Linked DNA regions of Homo sapiens: region 1 is linked to region 2. The links come from fine-mapping of genetic effects on gene expression. A gene starts in region 2. The other region holds a variant in brackets. All regions are shown on one strand. Distances are from middle to middle.

Region 1 (14,603 bases), 120 kb after region 2:
TAATTATCTCTTCTGCTTGGAGAAGAAAAGGAAAACCTATATTAAGAAAATGTTTAAATACAATTATTGTGTGTCAGTTTGGTGGCTAATATTCTTGATCTTAGGAATCATGACTACAATCTAGTATTTTTATGTTTGATTAATGTTGAGATTAAGAGCTGCTGGAAATGAATGCGTAGGTTGCTACTTACCTTCTCCCACTTTTTTGTGCCTCTGTAGGTACATGGACTATATCGCACAACAGGTGCTAGTTTTGAGAAGGCCCAACAGGAGTTTGCAACAGGTGTGATGTCCAACAAAACTGTCCAGACCGCAGCTGCAAATGCAGCTTCAACTGCAGCATCTAGTGCAGCTCAGAATGCTTTCAAGGGTAACCAGATTTAAGAATCTTCAAACAATACACTGTTACCTTTTGACTGTACCTTTTTCTCCAGTTACTGTATTCTACAAATATTTTTATGTTCAAAACACACAGTACAGACAGCATGGATATTTCCTGTTCACTTGTGCATGGGCTAAAACCAGGAAAACTTCCTTGTCTTATTACTTTACCTAATAGTTTCTTAATATTTCAGTGCCCCTTGCAGAAAAAATATTACATGCTAAATAAATATTCTCCATATTTTTGGGGGATGACATTCAGTGAATTATTTCAGTGGTGACCCACTGAAAATTAATAATGGTACTTATGATTAAAAACGCATTTAATACTAACTGCAGTAGTTCTTTCAAGAATCTTTAGAGATAAGGATTGCACATTGGAAAAGTAAACCATGTTTCATTCCTTTTTCCCTATTTATATTGAAAGAAATAGGCCAGCAGAGACTTAGGGATTTTAAATTGGCTTGCTTTTTAGCTGTTTCAGTCACCAGTGAAGAGCCTATGTGCATTTTGTAGTAGATAATGTAAAATTTGTCATCTTTTTCTTTTCTTTTTTTTAGAATAGCTGATATTTTGATAACAATCTCTAATTTGCATGGGCACCACATTTCTTATATTAAAAGAATTAGTGTTTTGGCTTCTGTACTGCTTATGGTTGTAGGATTCAGGGGTTAATGGAATCACAGAAATGATATTCTGCAAGAATTTCTTTTAAATAAAAAGTTTGGGGGTGCAATATAAGAAGTTTATATAATATGCAGTACATTATCCAAAAGAGAAGGTAGTTAATGCAGTAGAAAGTAGTGGTAATAATTCCTTTTTAAAAAAATTTCGGTAGTCATATAGTAACATTTTGCTATATGAAAACTTTGGTATATTCTGTGGTTACAACTAAGATTGTGTCTGGCAGCTCTTTTTTGGGGATGTGTGTGTGTGATTTTTAACAGAGGTATTAAAGGCTAGCCTAACTGTTGTCTAAAAAGATTGTACAGTATTTAAGGGATTTTCCTTTTAGCTTTTCATCTCCAGTGGCATTAAACATAAAAAGACCCTGGCATTTTTTCACATACTTGAATCCCTAAATGCACCTGTCTTTCACTTTTTGAGACAGACTGAATATATCTAAAATTTCCAGCAATAAAAAAAAAAGCATTTAACTTGCACCAAGCAAGAAAATATAAATACAGTTAACTGCATTAAGATAATCACGTTAAAATTGTTACTATGCAGCACAGAACTTCATTCTTATAGTATTCTTGGGTTCAACCTTTGAATCAATTTTACCACTGATTAAATAAATGACTCAAAGACATCTGTAAGTCATGCTGCTGTGTTTTGAAAGTCTTTAACTAAATTAAGATTGCAGAATGATAGTGATTATTCAATTAGATTTTAAGTAAGGATTGTGATATTAGAGGCTGGAAATCCTTATTTTTTAAAAAATCAGATAGGCATAAATAGTTAAATCACTTTCATTCTCCCCAAACCTGTAGTTACAGAAAAAGTTTTATGCTAGAGGTGGGATGCCAAGTTTTCACTATCCATGAAGCAGCGCTGCATGTCACTAGGTAACACAGATCCATCCAGATGGTGTTTACATTTGATTTATTTGGGATCTTATTGACATCAGGTATACTTGGAAGACATTTCTTTTATTCTTCAGCGTATGAATTTAAAGCTATTTTTTGTAAATATTTCTAATCAGCGATAATTTCTACCTATGTTCTCAACCAACTTAGCCAGTTTGTTTTTCAGAGCCTGTAGTCTTATTGGAAATCTATTTTATCAGTGTGCTTTATTGAGTGTGGATTTTGCATACATTCAAAACATTAACCACAAAATACAGCAAGTGCACCTATATTCACCATTAACTTATATCCCAAGTCCATTTTTTCCTGTACACTACAAACAAAAGATATATTAGAGACTTTTGAAAAATGCTGAAATACTTTGCTTCAGAATTGGAATGTTTATATTATGTAGAAATCTTCAAAGGTAGCATTATTAAATAGCAAAGAATAATTAGAACCCACATATCTTTTTTTGTGTGGATGGGGAAAATGTTTTAAAATCCAGTTATTTAATATGAGTTTGAGAGAGAAAATTGTTTTTTAAAAATATATGTGCATTGAAATGATGGCAATGCTTATAGTATGATCAAGTATGAAAGGAACTTTAAATTCTTATATTTACTTTTCTCTCAGTAAATTGTTAAATTTTCACTCAGCAAAAGATTGGCATTTGTTAAGTGTTCTATATTTAGTACTAAAATCACAGTCATGAAATCATAGTCATAAAATGGTCTTCACACAGCAGTCATCCGTGTCATTTATCATTTTGTAATATTAAATTATGGCAATTTTATTTCAAACTAAAGTTTGAACACCGGAAAGTCATTACTCAGTGATTTGTAATTTGGGACTTGGATTATTTATCTAGAGATGTTTGTATATTTTGTCAGTAACTAATACTGCGCTGCCATCATGGTGACTGTCATGGTTCTACAGAAATGCCCTCCATGTGTCCCTCTAATGTTGCATGTTTCAGTGGGTTGGAAGTTTTGTATATTTATTGTATTAACACAGAGTGTCATAAAATAAAATGCTGTTTACTGGATGTTTGTTTGTATAATTTTGAACACTATAATAGCAATTCAGAGACAGACATTGTTAAAGGTTTGATGTATATAGAAATTCCATGTTTGATTTTTTAAAATATGTGTATAAGTCTGTCATGTGCTAAACAAAATAATATGAAAGACCTAGTTAAAAATTCTAACCAATGTAAAATGACCATTTTTCTGTTGCATTAGACCTTTACAGGTAATGGAACATGAGCTTCACCCATATTAAATATTTTGGCCCCTTTAAGGTCAAAATACAGATCATCTAGAAGTTAGATTCAAAATGGAAAACCTATTCATGGCTCAGATTTTTCATTGTGGGTTAAAAATGGGTGTCTCTGTACTAGTATTGTATTTATTCAATTGAACTTGTATTCTGATTTCTATCCTTGCTACCTATTGCTGTTTTATGTACTGATGAAAGTACCTATTTGTGTATATTGGATTTTTCACTTGGTTAGCTAAAGAAGATGTAAAAATATCTAAAATAATGTTCATGGTGAATCTTATTTTGAGAAATACATGTTAAAAAAGGAACAGTATTCTTTATTTTCTGGGTGTTATATTTAAAAAAGCAAGTTTGGATTTTTACACCTAATTTACTAGGAAAATATTTTATTCTGTAATTCATGTTAAGATTATGTATGGTTTGCATTTTAAGGGGATTTATGTTAGGTTAATTAGTTGTTTCTGTAAATCATTTGTAATAGCATAGTGCTTTTTACTCATTGCTGTATCTTTTTCTGAAAACACTGTTGTTAACATCTAATTCAGTATCCTTATTGGTACAAATCTGTGTTTGGCATGACTGTTTATATACAGAATTTGTTACATTTTGAGCATTTTTTCCCCTGCTTATGTATACCTTAGAGTTACCATGGCTGTCATATACCATTTCACTATATCTCCTTTCAGTTTTTCCTTAAGGAAAATGTTTAGAGGAATTTGTTCATTTCATGTGATTAAGCCCTTTAGAGATGAAATAAGATTGGTTAATTTTAAAAAAATTGAGGATGGTTAAAAAATAGAAAACACCTTACTTTGATACATTTTAAAGTACAATAGTATACATTTATTTAGAGTAGACTAATGTGTTTAAAACATGAGTTGTTTTAAATACTTTTTTATTGAGCTAAAAAGTTTTATCTCACATATTAAGTATTACAGAAAGTGAAGTATTTTGGCTAGAATTTTAGGGCATATTTTATAAAGCAGCATGCCTGTAATATTGGTGGGTATTTTTAAACTTTAGGACTTTATCACAGTATGTAGAGAGCTAGAAATAAATCTAGAAACTTTCTAAGCCAGGTATTGCCACTAACCTGTCTTATATAAGCAGATACCTCTTATTTGAAGATTGTAGGAAAATAGAGAAAGACTGTTCTCCAGTTTTCTCACCCCCGCTGTGGGTTTTATATTTACAATTTAACTTTGGGGTTTGGGTAAGACAAACATTTAATGTATAGGATTTTGGCCAGGTGTGGTGGCTCACGCCTGTAATCCCAGCACTTTGGGAGGCCAAGGTGGGCGGATCACGAGGTCAGGAGATCGAAACCATCCTGGCTAACATGGTGAAACCCCATCTCTACTAAAAATACAAAAAAAAAATTAGCTGAGCATGGTGGCGGGCGCCTGTAGTCCCAGCTACTTGGGAGGCTGAGGCAGGAGAATGACGTGAACCTGGGAGGCGGAGCTTGCAGTGAGCCGAGATCTCTCCACTGCACTCCAGCCTGGGCGACAGAGCGAGACTCCATCTCAAGAAAAAAAAAAAAGAATTTTCATTAGTGCTGGCCGTGTTTCAAATGGCAAGGGAACATGGGAACTATCATGTGGCAATGTAGTGAGTGTTAAACTTTGTGTTTGTCCAAATCCTGATTTATTTTTCAGTTCATATCTTTCTGGGCTTGACATGGCTGATGGTGTAGCTGAAACCCTCCTAACACTAAAAGCCATTTAATCTTTTCTGTAATAGGAGCAGAAAATAGTTAATCATCCACCTAGTAATATAAGATTACTGTGAATATTATCTTCTATACATTAAAACAGTTCTAGTTTGTAGAATAATACCATACAAGTTTTATTTTTAAATTCTAGTTATTTTCAGTGCTTACTTAAATGTAATTCTAGAATTCCTCCACAACTTTTAATATTTTGTATGCCAGTGATTCTCAAGATAAATCATGATTGTAGTAGTTGTTACTGTTGGCAGTTTGTAGTAGTATTCAGGTATTTTGGGGATGGGGGAAAACACCAAAAATCAGTGTCTTTTATCTGGTGATCACTGTGGTATCTACAGTATTCTAGTCTCCTGCACAAAAACTGAACCCACTGGGCCTATGCATCCCTCACACTTTTTTTCTAGTATAAAAGCAATACATAATGTGTTGTAGAACAATTAAAAATTCAGAAAGTGATACATGAGAAAATAAAAATAAATCCTTAATTCTGTCATCTTGGGGTACCTCTGCTAATATTTTATTGTCTTCCATTCTTTTTCTATGCATATGTGTTTTGTTTAGTTAAGAGATATAAGCAATATGGATTTTTAAAAACCTTATTTTCCCCTCACTTAGCTTTATGTCATAATGGCGCAATAGTTTAGTTTTTTAAATTAACTTTTTTAATTTATAAAATTAATGTATATTTCAGTATAAATTATAGAAAATATAAGCAAAAGAAATAACCAAAATTCTCATAATTTTACATCCATGAATAACTTCTATTAAAATCTGGTTTATATCTTTCTATTTTTCTAGGAAGACAACTTCCTAATATTAAAAATGAGATGACCCCGTACATCCTTGTACATCCTTTAGGGATGTCTACCTACTCCTCAAAAGCCCCACTTCTTTGGGTCCTTAAAGTCCACATTGGTACTGGATGTCATCTGGCCATAGTGGACTCATTCCTGGCTTATCAGTTTTTTATTCTGAATGTAGATATGTCTAGAACTCTACTGTTCCAGAATTGGAACATAAGAGGTAGCCATTTTCTGCCATGAGGAAGGAATCACCAAGAAAGCTGGTCTGCAATGAAAATGAAGAATGAAACAGACATAACAGGAGATGTAAAATGAATGACATAGAAAAGATCTTAGTGGCTTTCCTTTTCCTTTATGGAGCCCTACTTCTCACCCTTATCCCATTATCCTCATAATCTTACCGCTTTTTCTCCCTCAACTATCTTGAATTGGTTTCTTATTACTTTTAACTGGAGGATCTTAACACAACAGTTTATCTTATTTCAGTTATGATATAAATATGTATTGAAGATTTTAATATCTCTGAATATATTTCTGTAACATTTAGTATAGCTATATAGCTAACATCATATGTATGTATCATAAAGTCTTGTTATTCCTTTAGGTTCTGATTTTCAGGGTTTTAAAGTTATAAATAATTTATCAAGGAATATATTGTTGCTAAATTTGGGGACTCGGGCTTTTGTTTTTTCTTTAGGACAGATTGCTGAGTTAAAGGGTATTATGCATAGTTTTTAAAGCACCTTTCATGTGCTTTGCCAAGTTGCTCTCCAGAAAAATTTTATCCATATGTAACTCCATCAGCAATGTACGGAAAGGCCTCTTTCTTCACATCCTTGGCCAGCATTGGATGTTCCTTTTCTAAAAAGTCTTTTATCCCAATAGATTTTGACAAATCAGGTTTCTTTTCTGAGCATTCTGGTTTCACATGGCTTATGTGCTCACCCAATGCTACCGGTTTGTTTGTTTGTTTTTGTTTTTGCTAAATAGGAGTAACTGAGTACCCTGCATCCACTGAGAAATCTTCTGCTTCCTGAAAGCTCTAAGGTAAAGATAATTAGCTGAATGCTCTGTTATAACAGGATGGAAAAAGAAATGGTGGCCTCAGGTAGCCAATCCACTGAGTCTCTCCAGGTAAAATTACACTGGTTTCGACAAGTTATGTTACCTTTCATAGAATGTAATTTTAAAATGATATTAGTCTGGGTGGGTAGTATTTTCTTAGTTTTTTTCTAATAATAGCTTATTGTGGGCTTAATTATATACCAGTGTTCTGTACTAAATGCTTTATATACATCACTTAATTTTCATACCAAACTTGTGATATAATTTCTGTTGTTGGCTCTGTTTTTGTAGAGTTCTAGGAAATTACCCCAAGGTCACTCAGTGAGTGGTGGTGGTGAAGGGCTGGAGAGGGATGATGAGAACAGGCAGGTCCCCTGACTCCTGCCAAGCGTGGCTGCCCCACCATGCCGCCTCGTTCCAGTTGTCTTCCCTTTCATCCTTCCACATTTCCAGTCATTCATGTCCATCCTTTAGGGACAACAGATACTAGAAAAAAAATCAACAAAAAAAATTTTTACATATATTTTTGAAGTCTCCAGACCAAATGCTAACACCTGCCACCTAAAGGTGAGTACCTGCTGCCCATTCTTCAGCAGTGTAAATTTACTAAAGGGTCTTTGGCGTTTGTGTGTTTGGAGAAACTTTAGTCGAGGACAAATCCTTATTATTAGGTTAAATATGCTTCTTATGTGATTATAATAGTTGCTTACCCTGAATGAGAGATTATTTATACTAAGAAAACAATAAAAACTGTCAAAGCCTATCATTTATTTTCCCACTGTCACATACTTAATGAATTTCTTGTGTCTGTTTTCAGGATTGAGCTAAATCATGATTGATAAATTGAGACATATGGTGTCATCTTCAAAATTATGAAAAATCACTAGGTGTTTTCTCTGAAAGGGAGGAAGAAGCAGTGTTTTCATCAGTTGTGATGGTGAGGCCCTTTTGGAGTTTTATTTGGAAGTTATTCTAAGTGTTTACAATGTAGAGATATTGCCCAGGAGTTTGCATTGGCTGCCTTCCCACCTTGTGCATTCCAGGTAGAAGGAAACAACATAGCAGTTTGAGTGAGTTGCCTTTGGTGTCAAACATGTATCTGAGCTTTGGCTTTTCCGCTTATTAGCTTTCTAACCTGGGATACATTATTTAACCTCAGTTATTTAAGTGACAGTTATCTGTAAAACAATAGTAACAGTTTCTATCTCATAGGATTTTGATGAATAAATGAATTTTATGAAGTATTTAGCATAGTATCTGCCCATAGAAGTTGCACAATAACTAAGGACACTTACCATCTCTCAGGTGTATTGATGACTCCCAAATCTCTCTCTCTCCTTAGTATAGTCCTAGCTGCACACAGGACTTCTACATTGGCAGCCTAAGCTGAACCTCCTCACCTTCATTGTCCCTGCTTCTTCTGGAGTCTTCATCTTGGTGATCACATCACCTTCCACTCAGTGTCTACGCTAAATACCTGGCTGTCATCCTAGACTCTTTCCTCTCCTTCCTCTCCACTTCTGATCAGTCACCTGCCCATTCTTTTTCCCTAACATAGAATTCATCCCATTGACTGTCCTTTACCATCACTGCCTTAATTCAGGCTTTCGTCTCTTGTGAATAAAATCATAGTGGTTTCCCCTAAACATAGGCATTTGGACTGCCTACCTGTAGGTGTTCAATTTTTCAGGATGTTTGGCTAGAAAAAGCTAAAAAGCTGCTAATAGCAATGTGTTACTTGATTGACTTTTCTTTCCCATGTGGTTTTGGTTTCACTACTTCCTCTTTTTGTGTGCTTTTATCTGTGTCCTGTGTACCTTAGTAAAATTGGCAGTTCTTGTCTGCAAGACTTATCTTGCACAACTGTTCAGGGTAAGGAGAGGAAGTTGCAAGGAAGAAGATAGTAGTAGGGGGAGCAGTGGGATGGCTCTGCCAAATGACTCAGCTGCTAGTGAGGGCCTCTGAAATAAAGTTATTGGTTCTTACTGCTTTGAAGAGTAAAGTTTGCTTTGATACCCTACCCTTCATTGTTTGAGAGTTGAAAAAGATTGTTTGAAACTACTGAAATAATATCCACATAAAATATCCACGTTAGTAAGGACCGTTGTAAGTGGTTGTTTGGTTAAGCAAAAACTTTAAGGGGGTGTAGGTGTAATTTGAATGCAGCATGTTCCAGAAAGATCAGTGTGGAAAGTGGACCTAGTAGCAGAATTGCTAGATAACAACTAAGGATGGGAAGCGGGGGAAGCACATGGGAGGATTCCCCAGCTTCTGCTAAAATTCAACCAGGGTCCATTCTCTGTGTGGATTAACTTTTGGGGAATACAATAACAGCTGAAAAAGCAATGGAAATTTTCTAATTTTTCTTGGGTTATTCAAATCATGATTATTTGGAAAACTGTGTGTGGTTTTTTTAAACTGATATGGGTAACTTTGTCAGCTTTTATTAGAAACCAAAACATGAATCTAATTTCAACTGTCATAGGCCCTAGATCAGGGGAAGAAACTGCCTTTTTTTGGTATGAAATAATAAATGCTTCATGGGATACAGAGAGTTGAGAGTTGAGAAGGGCATTTAGTGTCATTCTTGAGTTTATAAATTAGAATTCCACCTCTTCTGGATGAGGGTTTATATGGCCAGGATTACCTTCAGGAAACATGGATGTGGAATGGCACCGTATCATTGGCTTTTATTTTTAGGGATGTTGTTGGAAGAGGAGGATGTGTCTTTCAGTTAACTTTTCCCCTTGTCATTGTTACATATTTATGTTTGAAAATCCCTTTTTAATACTTCGGAGCATTTTCATATTTCATAGCTTTACTTTAAAATATATGTTTACAATACTTGAGATGTTTTTTCCTATTTACAATTGTGTTGATGCTTCTTCAAGGAAGAAATACATACTTGACGTTAAAGAAAGATAGCCCAGGGTAGGGACATATATGTTACTAGTGAATGGGATAGTTTAAAATACCTGAATATCTTTTTTCCATTCATCAATATTACATGTAAGTTAGTGTTTAAAATAAATGTTGACTGATTGATAGGTATTTTCTTGATCAGATTATACACATCATATTGAAGCCAGTATACTCAGACTTGAAAGAATAAGAATGAATTGCAAAATCTGGTTTAATTAAGATCTGGGGAGGGGAGCACATAGTGAAAATACATATGCACAGGAACCAAATCAATGCTAGACAATGTATTAGT[TTACAA/T]TATAATAGGATAACTACAAGTTTGAAGGCTCAAATTGAGTCCATCAGCTGTAAATACAATTTTATATTTGGCTCAAGTGGCTGTTGAATATCAAGTGGTGCCGAGTCCCTCCAGAGCACCTACTGACCCCCTCAGCCTTGGAAGGAGTTTCACCACAGTCTCAGAAGAAATCCCAGTCGTGCCTTTAACTCTTTTGGCCCTTGGGAGTCATTGCAACCCCAATACAAATGCCGGCCCAGGGATTTCCAGTGGCCACAAGTTATTGCACAGAGAGGTCTGTTCTAAGCCAGACTCTTACAGCTAAGGAGGTGTGAGATTAGCCCTTAAATACTGGTCTAGCATTAGCATGGTCTATAAAAGCATGTTAAGAAATAGCTCCTCAGTGATTATGTACCAGCTACTAGTTATCCTACTAAGAGAAAAGGCAACATGGCAGCTTCACATTTCACATGAAAGACTAGCATTAACTGGGCCTGGCGTGCGGGCTTAACTTTGACATAACACTAGCGATTATTTTAGACCCAGGAAAAAATGATTTCATACCAGTCTTTTCTTCACATAAGATTTGTGTAGCATTAAAATTATGGGTTACTGAATAAGCCATGAAGGCAAAAATGTGGAACTCTCCTTGCCAAAACAGAAACAAACATCCCTGTTTTGACTCCTGTCCAGTTTCCAAAACAAAACAACAAAACATACATACACCTTTGTTATTGCACATCTTTCACACAAACTTGTGTATGTATAATATACATATATATTTTTAAATATGCTACACATAAAAAAAGACTATGGCACTTTACAGAATATATGTTTAACAAAGATCATTACACCACAGATGTTTGAAAACTATACAAAAACCCTTATACAATTAATGCAACATTGTTTGAATTATTAGCACACAGGTTTAAAGAATCCACAGAATCCAAGGCAAATATTTCTGCCTCAGAGTTCATTGAGAAGCGCAGCCCATCCCATCCCGTCATGAGACTTTCTTTAAGCCAATTTCAGGCAAAATAAATAAGACTTTCCTGGTAGTAATAATGGTCCTATTTATTAGAAAAATAAGTGTGAGCCAACAATCTATTTTTAACATTTCTTTCTAGCATATTCCTCATACCCAGTGGTTTTTAAACAGCTGTGTGGAAGAGCATGGTTTAGACTAGCATGATTTTAGATGGTCCTTTCATCCCAAGCCTGGCTAATGGATTCAAGGTTTAAAAGTCCCAACATTACCTTTTTACTATTTACTAAGTCAGTGTTTAGGTAGTTTTTAGTGGTTTGGGGTTCTGTGTGTGTGCATGCCTGTGCTTTTGTCTTCTGTTGCATTCAGATTAATAACATAAACACTATCGAGTGAGTTTATTATGGCCAAGAAGTCACACTCCCTTGTGACTGTTCCCAGGTTGATCTAGAGGTACACTGCCACCTTAGCCAAAGAGCAGGTGATGGACATGCTCGGAGGATCCTGTGAGCTTAGGACTTAACTTGTAAGGACACTGAGATTGTAAACCTAGTGTCAGAAAATGGTTTCTCTATCCAAGAAAGAAAGAAAAGTGAGTCTTCTGATAAGTTTATGGAAAAATTTTGTGTTTTTCATCAAGGTTTGAGACTTGGTTAGAACATTATAAATGTACACACAGAGACAGAAGCTTTGTCCAGTGGCTCCTCCAGCCTCTTTCTGTGTGGTGTTAGAGATATGGTTAAGGTTTCCTAGGCTGCTATGAAGATACCCGTTTTTTTCTTCACCAAAATCACAGGATTTACATCTCACTCACTTTGAATTTTGGTTCAGGAATGGGAAACTCATTAAGGCTAGTTCCACACCTCCCACCCCTTTTGCCCTTAGCCCTTAATCTGTGAGAAGATGGTTTCTCATATAGGCCAAACACCAGAATGTAGTAAAACTGCGGTTGTCCCATTCCATCTCTGTATAATTATCTGTTCTGCACCAAGATACGGTGCTTTAGACTCAGACAGCTTTAACATGATTCACTCAGGGCAAGGTTGCAAACTCTGAAGTCAGGGTTGTATAGCTGGTAGCACAATACCTTGTCCACAGAAGGTACTTTTTCAAAACAAAGTCCTCAAGTGAGCAGATTAATGAACCCAAATACCTACACTTTTTCTCCTTCCAGAAATCTGGCAGTTCCATCTCACTTTCTTAAAGTGCTAAGGAGTGTTTCTGTATCATGATACAATTTTGAAGCTCCCATAATGTCAGAGTAGCTTGTTTCTGTGCTGCTCTGGTCATTCTGAGATACTATCTTCCTGAATCAGTGATATTGGTAATTTATGGAAAGTAGATTAAAAACCCCTGAATCCTTATTCATAGTGGTATTTGATTCTTTTTGTAAACAGGTGTAGGCAGTGCTGTGACCTTGATCTAGCGCCTCTTTTTGAATTAACTTTGTCCTCTGTGCTTTCCTGGAATTAAGGTCTTGGCTGCAGTTCTTCAGTTGCAGCAATTTAATGTTATCTCAGTCTGCTTTCAGGATCAACACCAGTAACTACAAAAACTTAACTCCCATAACTAGCTTCTTTTTGTTGTAGAATGCCATTCTGCTACTGTCGGGATTGGAAATAGAGCTGACTACAGCATGGTCACCAAACTGGGAGTAAAGGTCTCCCCCCAAGTGCCGAGATTCTGGCAGGTCCTCCCAGTGAACATCTGCATAAGCCACAGCTAGCTTGGAGACCTCAGTCCCTGGAAGGAGGAAACAGTGAGGTTTCCTTTCGCAGTCAAAGCACAATCCTAACCTTAGAAGAAAAACATGTGATCTCCAGAAGAAGAGGAGACTGGGCCAGAACTGGTGCTAGCCTGGCTGCTGGGAAGAAGAAAAAATACGTCTTCACTAGCAAGATTTCATATTTTTGTTCTCATATGATTGTATAGGTCCTTATTGTTTCTTTACTCAAATTTCTAAAATCTCTGGAGTGACAGTTCAGTTGATCCACCTTACCCTAGGATTCAGCCTAGAATAAGTTCCACAGCATGACTCCACGCCATCCCTGCTGACCCCTTTGGTCAGCTAAGCAAAAGACAGTGTCTTGCTGTGCCCTTTAGCACACATCCTGTCCCCAGTAAGTTTATAGTTTTCTGTTCGTTGGAGACAACTTGAAAGAACAGAGGAAAACAAGAACTCCAACCCAAAACCCCATTCTGAGGCAGAGATGCTCACAAGCAAGCAGTGTTGGAGCAGAAACAGCCTGCAGATCTGGCGGACGGTCTCTTCCGTTACCAGAGAAACTGCTGCCCTAATGATTTAGATTATTATCCTTCATTGAACCTGGGGGAGATGGAGTCTGACAGAACTTGGCAACTCCAGGTCTAGGATTATATACTATTTTCATGTTCCATTCCTTATAATGTGCACTGCAGACCGCATGTCCAGTAACTTTGCGTAGCTGGATGTGGCCTCTCATTGGTCCTGTTTAAGCCTCGGGCCGTGGAACGTGGCTTTGGTAGGTAAAGGTTAGTTCTCCACTTGACTCAAATGATGAAACTGTGGACTGTTTCACAAGATTACTCAAGGGAGAAAATGGCATTGTCTCTTCCAAACTAAAGGAGGCAGATCAGATTTTTCCCCTCTTCAATTTCTTCCTGTACTTTGTCACTAGAGGTTGCAATTTCTGCTTGTGCAGAGAAGACAGCACAGATGAAAGTGAGGACTGTGCCCCCAATGGCGGTATAAAAGGCCCAGCCCAAGGAGCAGTCTCCAGGTTTGTAGGCAGATGCATAATGTCCACAGTAGTCTATGGCCTTCTGGCAACCCCAGCCAGCAGGGTAGAGTATCAAACCGAGGATAAGGAATAGACCTGCAGAACAAAAGAGAAAACAGATTAGAAAATCCCCATGGTGCTACAACTGTCCAGATCTGTTGTAATTGTTACTTGATTTGCTTGCTTTGGGCAAGGGCATCTATTCTGCAATAGAAAGTGTTGGGACTGTTTCATGCAAACTAATCTGACCTGATCAAGAAGTATCACATTATTAGAAATATTTTCAGCCACTTTTTTACATGTTGGAATGTGAATCCACTAAAAATTTCTCTTCTAGAAAAGCAAATTGGTACTTTTCTTCTTCTTAAGACAGAGTCTCAATCTGTTGCCCAGGCAGGAGTGCAGTGGTGCAGTTGTAGCTCACTGCACTTGAACTCCTGGGCTCAAGCTATCCTCCTGTCTCAGCCTCCCAAGTAGCTCGGATTACAGGCACACACCACCACACCTGGCTAAGTTTTTAAGTAGAGATGAGGTCTTGCTATGTTGCCCAGGCTGGTCTCAAACTCCTAAGCTCAAGTGATCCTCCCACCTCGGCCTCCACCACGAGTGGCCAACTTGTTACTATGTATTCCCACAGGGCTTTTGGTGCACTGAGCATTTCTCTTTTGGTCTAAGGCAGATGTTGGTAAACTAAGGCCCTCAAGCCAAATGTTAACTTTATAAGTAAAGTTTTATTGGAACACAGCTGTGGCCATTCATTTTTGGATGCCTACGACTGCTTTGCTATGGTCTGCAAAATCTAAAATGTTTACTCTAAAATGTTTACTGTC
Region 2 (15,321 bases):
ACAAATATTTATGGAGAGCTCACCATAATCACTGGCATGTAGTAATAACTTTATATTCATAGGAGATGGGTCTATTATGAATTCTATAACAAATTGTTTTACATACTATAGGGACAGGAGAGACAAATTTGGGTTATGGATATCTAGTAAGAATTTCTATAGGATGTATCATTTGAAATTGGCCACCAGGCATTGATGGGACTTTGACGTGGAAATTGAGGGACAGAAGGGCATTCTTGGTAGAGGAGACTATATGCATGTATAGGTAAACGGAGACTCAAAAATATATTTATTTTGTTATATCTATTGTGTTCCTGTGATATAGAATACTTTAATACAATGAATAATAAAGGAATGCCACTGTGTTCTAATTATTTGGGGGATACTCAGACCACTCAGTCTCTTGAACAACATATAATCACATGGGAAAGGGTGGGTTACTGTATACAGCTGGTTGGACTGGGCTTGGCTTAGGCGATGAGCTTGGAAGGCAGCCAGCTGGATAATGGGTGGTGGTGTGAATCTACGGCTTGCTAGTGGTCAACTCATTGAGTCGAAGATAACCGATAAATATACCAAAGCACCTGCGGAGAAAGGAGAGCACCTCTTCTCTTGCTACCTTTTCTCCTGACGTCTCTCCCACAGTAAATGTGAGATGGTGAAAGCGCTTCTATCTTGTGCTCTCTCATATATGTGCTTGTGCGCAAGCTTTTTGCCCCAATGGGTATGCTCTTTTGTCCTTTCCATGCTTCATGCTGATAGCAGTATCATCAGGCCTTCAAGGCCCGAGTCAAATCCTTCTTTTTCTCTGAAGTTTCCACAGCCCACTCCAGCCACAACCACCTCACTCCCCTCTGAATGCCTCTACTGTGCCTACCGCCTTTGCTCATCTTAAATGGCCTTTTTTGTACTTCTTAACCTTTTTTAAGTTATTCTTTAACTAATTTCTTGAGTTCTTAATTGTCCCTTAATCGTAATAGTTACCATTTATTGAGCATCCTCTAATCTAAGTCTCATAATTCTAGGAGGGGCTATTATTATCCCTATTTGATTCATTTATTCTTTCATTCATTCATTCAACAGTTTTGAGCCCCTATTCTTATGTCTTAGCCATTGAGATCTCTGTGATCAAAACTGACAAAAGTTCTTATCCTCAAGGAGCTTATATTCTACTGGGAGCAGAGTATGTCAAATGGTGCAAGGCATTTTAGAGAAAAATACAGCAGGGAAGGAGGAAGTGCTAGAGAGTAGAGGGCTAACATTTTTTAACGGGAGGTTAGGAAGGGCCTTACTGAGAAAGTAACAATTGAGCAAAGACTTGCAGGAGATGAGTGAATGTGTGAGCCATGCAGTCAAGAGGCGGGAACTGCACCCAGGCAGAGGAAACAAAAGGAAAAAAGCTCTGTGGTGGGAGCACGCCTGGGGGACACGTGAAGTGGTGAGGAGGCCGGGGGCCTGAAACAAGATAATGCGAAGGAGAGGAATAGGAAATAAAGTTAGAGTGGCAATAGGGGCTGGAATCCATAGGGACTTGCAAGGCCCAAGCTTTTATCCTGATACAGCTGGGAAACTATTAGAGGGCTTTGAGTGGATGAGGGCCATGTTCTCATTTACTTTTTTTTTTTTTTTTTTTTTTGAGGGGACAGAGTTTTGCTCTTGTTGCCCAGGCTGGAGCGCAATGGCATGATCTCGGCTCACCACAACCTCTGCCTCCCGGGTTCAAGTGATTCTCCTGCCTCAGCCTCCCAAGTAGTTGGGATTACAGTCAGGCATCACCACACTTGGCTAATTTTGTATTTTTAGTAGAGATGGGGTTTCTCCATGTTGGTCAGGCTGGTCTCGAACTCCCGACCTCAGGTGATCTGCCCACCTCAGCCTCCCAAAGTACTGGGATTACAGACGTGAGCCACCATGCCTGGCCTCACTTACATTTTAAAAGAATTAGTTTGGCACTGTGTGGAGAATAAATTGTAGGAGGACAAGGGTGGAGGCAGGGAGGCTAGTTAAGAGACTATGGCAGTGATCCAGGTGAGAGATGTTGATGGCTTGAATTAGCGTGGTAATGAAGGAGGTGAGAGGAACGTGAGGATTAGGGAGGATAAGCAATTTGCCTGAAGAGTTGCACAACCCAGAACGCAGCAGATCAGGAATCTGAACCCAGGCTGGCCTTCTTGCAAAGCCCCTGGTGCTTCTTTGTGCTTGTGTGATTTCATCAACTTGGTTAGAAGACAGGGAAAGGACTGAATGCAGGGTTGCTACTTGCTCGACCCTGAGGGTGAATGTCTCCTTAAAATTGGTGCCCTAGAAGCCTCTGTGGCCTCACCCTCATCCTGGTCCCAGGACTAAACCTCTATATTTCAGGTTTCTTCTAGGTCAGAACCCTACCCCAGAGATGTTCCATAGCAATTTGTGAATTGATTGGGAGGCAGCAGTGGAGTTGCCGTTGGGACCCAAGTACATATGCTGTGATAATGTGGGAGAACTGAGGGCATCCTGTGGAGACAGGCAGACTGCCTTGATCCCTCGAGGAAACCCACACTACTTGACTTTGTGCTGTTGGTGTAGCTCTACAGTCTTTAACTCCAAAATACCCTTAGTTCAGTCTGGTTCATTCAACAAATAAACAAGTTATAATTGTTTTACCAGCCACTGTGATAAGTACTGGGAATAATAAAAGCCAACAATCATAATAAAATAAAACATAATCTGTCCTTGAGGAATTCTCAGTTTAGAGCCATGACCACAATAAATAAATTTTAAGTGTGACACGCATGTACACACAACTGAAACAAAGGTTTTGTGCAGCTTCTGTTTATTGTGTGCCACGTACTTGGATATTTTCTGTTCTCTTTTAAAATGTGCTGGTCATAGCCTTCTAAATTGAGTTTATGACTGACTAGTGGGTTGCACTACAAGTCCTAAAATTTGAAAAAAAAGGAGAAGGGGAAGCAGATACATAAATAAATGCATGTAGAGAGCCAGTGGGGGAAAGGTATGGCTGAAAGCATAGACTGAGGCCATGTGAGGAAGGACCGTGAGTGATATGATACTGAATTTAGTGTTTCTCCTATAGCTGACAAGGAGATCATAAAGGTTTTTAGGCAAAGGAGTACTTAATAAAAACGTTTAAGAAGACAGCATTTGCAATGAGGGAAGAGTCATTCAAATAGTATTTTAGTAATGGAAGCAAAGATGATGTTAAGCCTCAAATGGAAGCTGCGGCATTTATTCATTCATCCACTAATTATTTGCCGCACCATGTCAGATGCTGGAGTGACAATGTTGAAAAACATACAAACCCTGCCTTCAAGGTGCTATGGCCAATTGGAATATATATGATGATGACATCAATTATATGACAGAGTAATACACATTCTGAGAGTATTGCAGAATTTGTGGAAGAGCAAGAGTGGAAAATCTGCTTTTTCCCTTTATTAATAGTAAACTTTGAATTCGAAGCCAAATACAGTTGGTTTGTATATTCCTTTTTAAAAAGAATACTGTTTCCATGCTATTTACATAGTTAAAGTTGGCCGTAACTGAGGGTCTTCACTCAGGACAAGTCAAATGACATTCACTTTCTTTTCATTAACACCCTTTGCATTTTTCCCTTGGTTCTGCTGCTTGGAAGTTTCCTGGCACACCAGGAAACTGAGTGTACGTCCCTTTTCTTTCTTCTACTTTCCACACCACAGTGGTGTGGACAGGTGGTCCCTGACTTGCAGTGGTTTGATTTATGATTTTTCGACTTTACAATGGGTTTATTGGGGGTATTAAATGCATTTTCACCTTACGATGGGGATTATCAGGGTATAGCCTCATTGTAAATCAAGAAGCATCTGTATTAGATTTTCTGTCTGCTGAAACAAATTACTACCAATTTAGCATCTTAATACAAAAATTTGGTTTTTTTCTTTTTTTAACAAAATAATCTGCACAATCAAGAAATTTATTTATTTATTTTACAACTCTGTAGGTCATAAGTTCAGCATGAATTTCACCAGTCTAAAATCAAAGTGTCAGCAAGGCTAGGTTCCTTTCTGGAGGCTCGAGGGAAAATCTATTTCCTTGTACATTGATCATTGGTAGAATGTAGTTCCTTGAGTCTGTAAGACTGAAATCTCTGTTTCCTTGGTGGCTGTCAGCTGAGGGTTCTTTCCAGCTTCAGAAGCCACTCACATGCCCTAGTTTAAGAACCCCTTCCTCAATCATCAAAGTCAGCAACTCTTCTGCTTTCCTCTTCCACTTTCAAGGACTCGTGATTACATTGGGCCTACTTGAATAATCCAGGATAATCCCCTCCTCTCAAGGTTCTTAACCTTAATTACACCTGCAAAGTCTCTTTTGCCATGTAAGGTAACATATTTACAGATTCTAGGGATTATAGCATGGACATCTTTGGGGGAGGGGAGGATTATTTGGCCTACCACACAATGCCTGCACCTCCTCTGTTATTGCCTGAAAATGTAGCCAGTGGCAGAATAGGGAGCCAGATAGGCTGGTGCTGGGGCGTCGAGGGTATCAGCAGACACAGCAGCAAATCTGGAGACTAGACCCACTGTAAGAGATGATGGATTTCAGTTCTAATCCATCAGTGAACCCAGAATCCAGTGAACCTTTTGAGGCAAGAAACGTAAATATCTAACTTGGCATTTTCCTAGCATTCCCCAGCTATAAGCTAGGCAGTTTAGAAAACAAGGAATTCAGACTCTAGACCCTGCTCAATAGGTTCACCAATTAAAAGTGTCAGTCTGAGGAGAAGCAGCATGATGATGATGGGAGGCACACTCTGAGGGGAAAAGAAACAGGGTTAGGGAGGAGTGAGCCACTGTCCCAGATTAATAGAACGTTAGAACTGTCCAAAGGATCTGAGATATCCTTTAGCCATGTTCTAGGCCTTTTAGGAAGTTTTCTGGAGCAGGCCTTACGCTTTATACCTGGTTTACTGCTTTATCCACAACATCACTGTTTTAGTTGCTCAAGAAATACTTGAATGATGTACTAGAGTAGAAACTCTGGTTAGAAAGGTGAGTTGATATGTTCAAGATCAAACGGTTGGTTTGCAGGAGAGAGGGCATAGACTGGTTTTGAGTCTTTGTTCTACCAAATTTAGGAGGTACCTTCCGTAAAATGAACTCCTGCACCAAATGAGGCTTCTTGTATAATTTCTCTCTACCTTGCACATAGCATTTCTTCCTTCTATATGAAATTATTCATATAGAATAATTCTATTCATTTAATAACCTATTTATTTAATGTCTAAAACATTAGTCAAGAGACCTGAGTTCTGTTCCCTGTTTCCCCATTCACTTCCTTGGTGTCTGAGACAAATTACTTAACCTGTCCAAACTCCAGTTTCTTCAATCATGAGAGAGGCTGAGGTTCCTTCTCAGCTCGCACATTCTATAATTCTAAATTTCATGGAGGCTAATGAATTAATAAGCTCCCTGCTATGGTTTGGGTATGGCTTTGGACCTGCAAAGTGTCATGTTGAAATATGAGTCCCAGTGCTGGAGTTGGGGCCTGGTGGGAGGTGTTTGGGCCATATGGATGAATTCCTCACAAATGGCTTGGTGCTATTCTCCTGAGAGTGAGTTCTCATCCTTGAGAACAGGTTGTTCAAAAGAACCGAGAGTCAGCTTCTCCCTTTCTCTCCCCTGATGCCCCATCTTGCACTGTAGCCATGTGATCTCTGCACGAAGTCTCCCCTTTGCCTTCTGCATGAGTGGAAGCAGCATAAGGCCCTCATCTGAAGCTGACAGCCTGCAGAACCATGAGTCAAATAATCCTCTTTTCTTCATACATTATCCAGCCTCCCGTATTCCTTTATAGCAACACAAACAGATTAAGACCCTCACCCATGGACCATATGTCTGCATGTCCTCATATCAGTGTTCCCAAAAGTGTGATCAGCCACCACCAAAGTCATCTCAGGTTGGCCAAGCATGGTGGCTCATGCCTGTAATCCCAGCACTTTGGGAGGCAGAGGTGGCCTGGATCATTTGAGGTCAGGAGTTCGAGACCAGCCTGGCAAACAAAGTGAAACCCTATCTCTACTAAAAATACAAAAATTAGCCGGGTGTGGTGGTGCATGCCTGTAATCCCAGCTACTCGGGAGGCTGAGGCAGGAGAATTGCTTAAACAAGGGAGGTGGAGGTTGTAGTGAGCCACGATTGTGCCACTGCACTCCAGCCTGGGTGACAGAGTAAGACTCGGTCTCAAAAAAAAAAAAAAAAAAAATCACCTGAGATCCTTTACATATGCTGATTTTTGCAGTTGTTAAGAATAATGAATCAGATATATGGTTTCCATTAGGCCATGCTTCCCTTTTCACTCTATAGGCATGCTACACATAAAAAGTGATAATATTTATGTGGCATACTAGGGGAAGAAACCTTAAGACTGTCTCTCTGACAATGCACATCTTGCTGAGAAATTCTGCCATACGTATTGAGAAAAACAGCTGCAGAAAAATATACATATGATCTAACTTTTTCAAGACAATGCCAAAGCTCAGTATTAGAGTGTATGCATATCTGCATGAATATGTATTGTTTTTATACAATTACATGTTATTTTATGTAAGTGCAGATATACACTATTACAAGAATATTTAAAGAAATGTACTAGGTTGTTAATGTAGGGGAAGAGAAGAGGGAATACACGGAATAAAAATTTTTGTAAGTGAAAAATTCAATATGTATGTCATGACTCCATTTATACATTTATGTAAAATAATGTATAGAGATGTAAAAAATAAAAAATGCAGATCCAGAGCCCCTACCTCAGATCCTTTCAAGCGTAATCTTAGCAATAGGAGGTATGGTAAGGTGGGTGTCTGCATCTTCAACAGGTATTCCAAATGATTCTATAACAGTAAAGTCTGTAAACCTTTGCATTAGGTGCAAATATCATTAGCTGTAAACAGAACATAGTTGGAAATTTCCATCCTGCAATGCGGGCTCAGCTGACCCTCATTGTCTTGGAACATAGTAGATGCATAATAAATAGTGCAGATTATTTTGAGTCATTTGGAGGACAGGTGGAGGGAGTGAGGGCAAAAGTGGTGAGAGAAGCAGATGAGCTGGGCAAGGACATGCTTGCTCAGGAGAAGGGAGGCAAAGCGTATAAGAACATACTGAGCCTCCTTGCCACTTTCGACGTTCAACCAATATTTGTTAGGCACTAAATATACATGCAGGACACTTTTCTGTATGTTGTTTCATTTAATTCTTAAATAATCCTTTACAGACTCAGAGAGGTGAAGAGAGTAGCACAGGTAGTATCAGAATTGGGATTCAAACCTGACACATACACTGAGCACTAAGTTAAAACCGGGCACTGGGCAGCTGCTGAGGATGCGATGGTGAGTACAACAGACTGCTTGCTCTTTTTGATATCTAGAATCGTACAGCTCTGCTGTGCTCATCCTTGTCTGTTGTCATTTACTAGTTGACATCTTCGTTGACTACCTAGAAGCAGCTGCTTCGACATCTATCCCAACCTGAATCCCGTCAAAGGGAGATTACAACAAATGTGCTTTTTGTCTATCATCTCTAGCTAGTGTTTCACAGTGGGGGGAGTATCATTTCCTGGGTGACTTTGCATAGAGCAAGCTCCCCAAAGGCCAAGGAATACTCAATCTAGATTCTTCCAATCCTCCGGTACCCACCAAGTCAAAAGAATTCTGGCTCCCTGTAGCTTCATCTAAGTGCTTTTCTGTTAGAGGAGAAAAGTGAGGAAAGCGATGCTCTTTCAATAAGTTCGGCAGGGTGGGGCAAGGAATGGTACAAATTGATTTTTTTTTTTTCTTGAGACAGAGTCTCGCTCTGTCTCCCAGGCTGGAGTGCAGTGGCCCGGTCTCGGCTCACTGCGACCTCCACCTCCCGGATTCAAGCGATTCTCCTGCCTTAGCCTCCAGAGTAGCTGGGACTACAGGCGTACGCCACCACTCCCGGCTAATTTCTGTATTTTTAGTAGAGACGGGGGTTTCACCATATTGGCCAGGCTGGTTTCGAACTCATGACCTTGTGATTCGCCCGCCTCGGCCTCCCAAAGTGTTGGGATTACAGGCGTAAGCCACCGCGCCCGGCCGGTACAAATTAATTTAACACATCTTTTGATAATCTCATCCTTGGTGTTGGAAAAGACGGGAAAATCCAAAAGTGTCTATTTTGTGCCCAAATGCTCAAGTTAATACTCGAGGGCCTTGATCTCTGGCCTCTTGCCATCCCTCTCCCCATTATTTCTGAAGAAGTAGCCATTTTGCAGATTCCGGAGGATGGGAGCCACGGCCGGCCCCTGGTACTGAATCTCATCTCCTTCTCAAGGCTCCTTGGATCAAGTTGGGACCGGCAGCGCCAAGGCTGCTCTCCGTGATTTAGCAGCAACCTAGAGTCAGAGAGACCGGAAGATGGGAGGCCGGGATTCTCAGGTGGGGTCAGGGGTATGCAAAAATCCTTAGCAGCGGCCGCGCCCCCGCCCCGGGGAGGTAATTTGCGGAGGGCGGTGCAGTAGCCTCTCCAGTGCCCGCGTCCCACGGTCTAACGGCACTGCTCCCGGGGTGCGCGGCCCACGACTCAGGCTGCCTCCCCCAACCTGACAAGTGTGCGTCCTTACCACAAAATGCCACCACTTCCCTAAGTGACGCTGGGCCCCGAGGACCTGATTTGAAATCGGTGTTCAGAAGACCGAGCCCGGCTGGACGCAGCTGGCCTCCGGCTGAGAGCGGAGGGGAAGGGTTCCATACTCTCCGAGGATCCCGCGGGCTCGTGGCGTGTGGAACGCTTTTCATCGCTTTCAGTTCCCGTTTCCTTCGCCCCGACTGCCTACTCGGTCGCAGCTAAAGCCCGGAGCGTGGGATCCGGGCCCGGAGGAACGGGATGGCGAACGCGAGCTGCGCCGCGGCCAGGAGCCCGCCGCACCGGGCATGCTCAGTGGCGCGGCCGGCTGGGTGGCCCGCGAGCTGCACCCGGATCTGCTCGGCGGCGGCGACGTGAGCGCGCAGGGGGGCGGCGGCCTCGCCTCGTCTCTCTCTCTGCGCCTGGGTCGGGTGGGTGACGCCGAGAGCCAGAGAGATGTCGGATTTCGACAGTAACCCGTTTGCCGACCCGGATCTCAACAATCCCTTCAAGGTGAGCTTCGGCCCCAGCATCTCCTGCCGCCGCGACGCGTCGTTGTTTGTGAAAACGGACGAGTTCCTTCGCGCCCACTGCGTCTGCCCCTCGGCTCCCCTTAGCAGCCCAGAGAGGGGCGCGGGGCCGCCGTCCTCCATTTGGGGTCGCGCCCCGGCCCCGTGTCACTCCTTTGGGTTTTGGGGCTTGGGGGTGGAACCTCCTCAGCTCGTGCCCGGTCGCCCTTCCACACGTCCCCGACTGGTGAGGGTCGTGTCTGCAGCCGGGACTGGGCCCGCGCGCCCGGAGGGGTCCTGGCCCGCCTCTCAGGAGAGAAAGCCGAGGGCAGGTAGAGTCGCCCCTTGCCAAGCAAGTGTGGCTGGCAGGGCCGGGAGTCGGCGGAGGGGGGCCCGCCCTGGGGTGGGGTTGTCATGGGGACCCGAGGTGGCGGCGGCGGAGAGCTGCGTGGGGTGATGGCAGAGGTGTGGAGGAGGAGAGAGGTGAGGGCACCGAGTATGCTGCAATTAAAAAAAAAAAGGTTATGTTTTTATTTTTTAAACTTGTGTTGCACCCAAATACCACCAGTGGCGCTGCCATCCCCCCTCTTTCTGTTAGGTTGAGGTTGAGGTTATTGATACCAAAGCAAAACTTAAAAATAAACATATCTGGAAAACAATAGTGCACGTGGACGACCTCTTCCCTACCCAGCTGCTTCTAGCAAGGTAAACGATGGGATATTTTCCAAGCTCCTAGTGCGTCACCGGTTCTCTGGGCTATGTGAGGATACCATTTCCTACTTGAGCTGCTTTTCTTCTTGGAGTCGACCTTATCAACCCCGGCTTCGGAAGGGCTTGGCACAGAATCCTGCAAAGGAAGGCGGCTGAGATATTCATCGTCTGCGTTTAAATGAATGCAACATCTAAATAACTCTCTCTTTGAAAGTATTCTGAATTTCCTAATGAGTGTAACTGTTAGCACGTGTAATTTGTTTCCAACTGTTGGTTGAAGTTGTTTCTCAATCCCCCCGGCCATGTGCAGTAGTAACTTTAATTTGCAGTCACACAGAATAAAACAGGAACTCTAATTTGTGGTCACACAAGTGTCACTTCTGGCTTGTTGAGTTTACATCTTTTTACTCCTGGTTTTATCTTTCATTAAGAATCCTGGAAGAGGAAAACTATTTCTGCTCTGATTATTAAATGCCTGATAATTCCAAGGAGGATTATTTTAATGAAATGACCCTGATTATTATTGACAACTCGACTCACTTTGTAGCAGTGTAGAATTAGACTCAGTCACTGTTTCATTGTCCCTAATGTCACTTAAAATTCAGTACAACTGGCCTGTACCTTTCAGTGACATGGTTGCATTTTAAGACTTTTTTTTTTTTCCTGGCAGTTTTGTTTCAATTAGTATTGGACTTGCTTCCATGTTGTGGAAAATCAGGTAGTTCTTAAATGGTAGACTTTCTAAAGAGACCGTTCATAAATTGTTAAATGGGTGTTATTTTAAAATATTTTGAAGATAAAACATCAAGAACCTTTTAGCCTTTCCTAATTCAGATAATTCACTGACGCTGTTTATTCAGCATCTGACGATTTGGCAGTGTATTTTCTACTTGGTCATTCCATTTCATGGTTCATTTCATATTAACTGGCTCTCTTGTTAGGGCAAAACATTGTCTTCATCTTAGCCCAGACTGTCCTTTTGTGACATCTGATATTGCCATGACACTTTTCCTCTTCTGACATTCATAAAGTTGCTGTAGTAATTCTAAACCCAGGAGTTGTTTTAAATATTCATTGTGGCATAACGTTATAAATCTTTTTTGTTCTTTTATAAGTGGATGTATCCAGGACAATGATTATTCAAGTTTGTAAAATGCATCAGGGACAGATCATTTAGGTCTAAAGTAGACTTGGTTGTACACATATTTCTGCTTATGATCTTTCTCTGTTTTTGGTGACTGTTATAGCACTGTCAGTGTATCTGACCCTTTATTTTTCCATTTATGTTCACCTGCCCCTCCTCCTCACAAAGTATAGTTTTATATCTATATTTTGTCTTTTTACTTCTGCTTATATTTATGTAAAAGTGATTTTTGAAATAACATTTCTGATACTCTACTTAAATCTGAAATGTTTCTAGAATCATTTGAGTTACTTTATGATCATTTTTCTTTTTTTACTTTTTTTTTTTTTTTGAGACGGAGTCTTGCACTGTTGCCCCGGCTGGAGTGCAATGGCGTGATCTCAACTCACCACAACCTCTGCCTCCCGTGTTCAAGTGATTCTCCTGCCTCAACCTCCCTAGTAGCTGGTATTACAGGTGCCCGCCACCACACCCGGCTAATTCTTTGTATTTTTAGTAGAGACAGGGTTTCATTGTATTGGCCAGGCTGGTCTTGAACTCCTGACCTCGTGATCCACCTGCCTCAGTCTCCCAAAGTGCTGGGATTACGGGCGGGAGCCACTGCGTTCAAGCAGATCGTTTTTCTTTCTTTCTTTCTTTCTTTTTTTTTTTGAGACGGAGTCTCCCTCTGTCGCCCAGGTTGGAGTGCAGTGGCGCGATCTCTGCTCACTGCAAGCGCTGCCTCCTGGGTTCACACCATTCTCCTGCCTCAGACTCCCAAGTAGCTGGGACTACAGGCGCCCGCCACCACCGGCTGATTTTTTGTATTTTTAGTAGAGACGGGGTTTCACCGTGTTAGCCAGGATGGTCTCGATCTCCTGACCTCGTGATCTACCCGCCTTGGCCTCCCAAAGTGCTGGGATTACAGGCGTGAACCACTGGGCCCGACCCATTTTTCAAATCTGTTTTTATTTGCAGTATTTGAAGATAAAGCTCTTATTTTCAAGTATATGATATTTCGCATTTGGTAACTATGCTAATTTCTTTTTCATTAAATCCTATTTGTTTTCCATTGCCTTTTTCATTTTTTAGCATTTCTTTTCCTTCACTTTTATGTTAGGAATACTTCTGCAAGCATCTTCGTTTGTGCCGTATCATGAAAGTAGTTTGAGTCTATTCTCCTTATATAATATAACCATAGTGGTTTACTTGATTTTATTGGTTCTTGTAAGGCTATTTGCTGGATTCAGTTCATTTTTTTTTGTTGAGCCCCTGCTTTATATTCTAGTGGTTTTCCTAGGCTTAGTGAATGGTTTTATGAAATTTGAATGGCTTTCATTGCGCATCAAGAAACTTGGAATAACTGGAAATCTGTAGTGATCGAAAAGAAAATAGGTGATTAATTATATAGAAGTTTCTGAGGATCCACTCTTGAGCTGTTAAAATGGGGTTTTAAAGCTATAGAGGGAAAAATATTTTCTGTATAGTCAACATGTAATTATTGAAGAATTGCTGTATGTCCTTTGTTTTCTGTTGAGTTTATTCATTCAACAAATACTGAAGAAGTGTCTCTGTCCTTATGGCTATTAGTCTAACAGTGAGACAAATATGCTTGGAAAATGAATGAAAGGGGAGAGTTTAATAACCAGCAGAGGTCAGCAATATAGGCTCTTACAAGTCAGCATAAGAGTGTATGGTTAAGTGCCGGAACAAGTGCAGTTTGTTCATAAAAGGAAGAAATTAGTAAGTGGTCAGAAAATTTTCATGCTTTATGCTTTTGCATATTAACATGATAATTGATTGAATAAGATAGTTCATTATGGAAATAACATTTAAATTAATTTTTAAAATATGAAGAGAATTAGAATTTCACAGCTGGGGGGGCAAATTCTTAAAATATATTCAGTCAGATCTCATAGATTAAAAAACAAAGCCCACAGAGGCACACTTGCTCATTGTCTTGTGCCCATGTGTAGGTAGTGTAGAATTGGCATTAGAACTTAGGTCTCCTGATTTCTAGTCCATTACTGGTGACACTGTATGTGCTCCCTGGTTGCATTTTGATACCAAAATTCTTGTTTTGTATTTGGAGGTTAGAGTTGAGGGGAGGCAGCAGAGGATAGGATTAAAAAATTTTGGCTCAAGAATTTGAAAAGATCTGGGCTTGATCCTGGCTTTGACACTAACTGGTTGTGAGACCTTGGAAAGTTACTTAACCTCTTTCAGACTCAGTTTACTCATCGCGTGTTCTCACTCATAGGTGGGAATTGAATAATGAGAACACTTGGACACAGGGTGGGGAACATCACACACCGGGGTCTGTCATGGGGTGGGGGGAGGGGAGAAGGATAGGAGATATACCTAATGTAAATGACGAGTTAATGGGTGCAGCACACCAACATGGCACATGTATACATATGTAACCTGTACGTTGTGCACATGTACCCTAGAAGTATTAAAAAAGAAAGACTCAGTTTACTATTTTGTAAAATAGGGTAATAGTACATTCTCTATAGGATTGTAAATAGGATTAGATGAACATACATTTAGCATATAGTAAGAGCTTAATGTATAGTGGTTTTAATTAGGTACTAATATTTAGTATTAATAGTAATTTAAGAAATTCTGTTTAATGGCCAGGCGCAGTGGCTCACGCCTGTAATCCCAGCACTTTGGGAGGCTGAGGCGGGCGAATCACGAGGTCAGGAGTTCGAGACCAGCCTGGCCAACATGGTGAAACCCCGTCTCTACCAAAAACACAAAAAATTAGCTTGGCGTGGTGGCGGGCACCTGTAATCCCAGCTACTTGGGAGGCTGAGGCAGGAGAATTGCTTGAACCTGGGAGGTGGAGGTTGCAGTGAGCTGAGATGGCACCACTGCACTCCAGCCTGGGCGACAGTGCGAGACTCATCTCAAAAAAAAAAAAAAAAAAAAAAAAAAGTTCTGTTTAATAATCTCTATATGCTTAGCTATGAATTTAGTGAAATTTATGTTACTTTTGGATCTTCTGGAGTGCTGGTAGTAGCTGTTTGACTGATCATAGTCAAGGAATCAAAGCTAAAAATAATTAAGTGCTTTGCCTACATCAACCTGCTAGACTAGACCAAGGTTGTCTGAATTCTGGTGCTTTTTCACAACACGTAGTTCCTCCCTAATAAAATATCTCCATGTTAAAATTGAGCATAGTGTCCATTTTGTTTTGGCCTCAAAAATTAATTTTAGTCTATTGAAATTTTTTTTAGAAATGGCCTAAAATTCAGCATTCTCACTTATGTTATCTTTTAAGTTACAGTAATCTGGTGGCATTGTAAGAGTTGAAATTTAAAATTGAAAATGACCCATAATTCAAGTGTGTTATTCATTTGTCTTAGTCTGTTTGGGCTGCTGTAACAAAGTATAGTACCTCACAGTGGGTAATTTATAAACAACAGAAATTTATTGCCCAGAACTCTGGAGGCTAGGAAGTCCAAGATCAAGGTCCCAGCAGATTCAGTGTATGGTGAGTCCTTTTCCTCATTGATGGCATCTTCTTTGTGTCCTCACATGGCAGAAGGGGATGGCAGCTCTTTGGGGCCCTTTTCTTTTCTTTTCTTTTTTTTTTTTGAGACGGAGTCTTGCTCTGTCGCCCAGGCTGGAGTGCAGGGGTGCCATCTCGGCTCACTGCAACCTCCATCTCCTGGGTTCAAGCGATTCCCCTACCTCAGCCTCCCGAGTAGCTGGGATTATAGGTGCATGCCACCATGCCCAGCTAATTTTTGTATTTTTAGTAGAGACGGAGTTTCACTATGTTGGCCAGGCTGGCCTTGAACTCTTGGCCTCAAGTGATCCACCTGCCTCAGCCTTCCAGAGTGCTGGGATTACAGGTGTATGCCACCACACTTGGCCTCTGGGTCCTTTTTTTAATAGGGATATTAATCCCATTCTTGAGAGCAGAGCCCTGCTGACCTAGTCACCTCACAAAGTCTTCACCTTCTGATACCATCACGTTGGTGATAGGTTTCAGCATGTGATTTTTAAGGAAACAAACGTTCAGACCTTAGTTTTCATTTTGTAACATCAAGAATGTTATCCATCTTATTTCATTTACCTTGACAATGATACTTACAAGTTGATTTCACTCCTCCCTTATCTGTTTAAAATTTTGAGGCTGAGCTTGATAGCTCATGCTTGTAATCCCAGTGCTTTGGGAAGCCAAGGCAGGAGGATTGCTTGAACCCAAGAGTTTGAGACCAGCCTGGGCAACATAGTGAGACTTCCATCTCTACTAAAATTTAAAAGTTAGCTGGGTGTGGTGGTGCACACCTGTAATCTAAGCTACTTGGGAGGCTGAGGCGGGAGGGTGACAGAGTGAGACCCT

Evidence for each region.
Region 1: its variant is fine-mapped to the expression of SCAMP1 in monocytes (Quach 2016, PIP 0.94).

The regions. Positions count from the first base shown.
Region 1 is chr5:78,475,285-78,489,887 of GRCh38, forward strand. LHFPL2 (LHFPL tetraspan subfamily member 2) reads right to left here. Exons shown (of 5, transcript NM_005779.3): 5 at 9,946-13,869. The coding sequence ends at 13,613. SCAMP1 (secretory carrier membrane protein 1) reads left to right here. Exons shown (of 9, transcript NM_004866.6): 9 at 220-5,455. The coding sequence ends at 384. Among named protein-coding and RNA genes, the nearest start is that of SCAMP1, 120 kb to the left of the region's middle. The variant TTACAA/T (reference allele first, on the strand shown) is at 10,045.
Region 2 is chr5:78,351,595-78,366,915 of GRCh38, forward strand. SCAMP1 (secretory carrier membrane protein 1) reads left to right here and starts at 9,023. Exons shown (of 9, transcript NM_004866.6): 1 at 9,023-9,134. The coding sequence starts at 9,078. It overlaps SCAMP1-AS1 (SCAMP1 antisense RNA 1), which reads right to left and starts at 8,947. Exons shown (of 2, transcript NR_105014.1): 1 at 8,620-8,947; 2 at 7,170-8,391. RefSeq lists enhancers at 8,075-8,671, 8,473-8,562, 8,593-8,752, 8,672-9,268, 9,663-9,782 and silencers at 8,933-9,022, 9,453-9,572.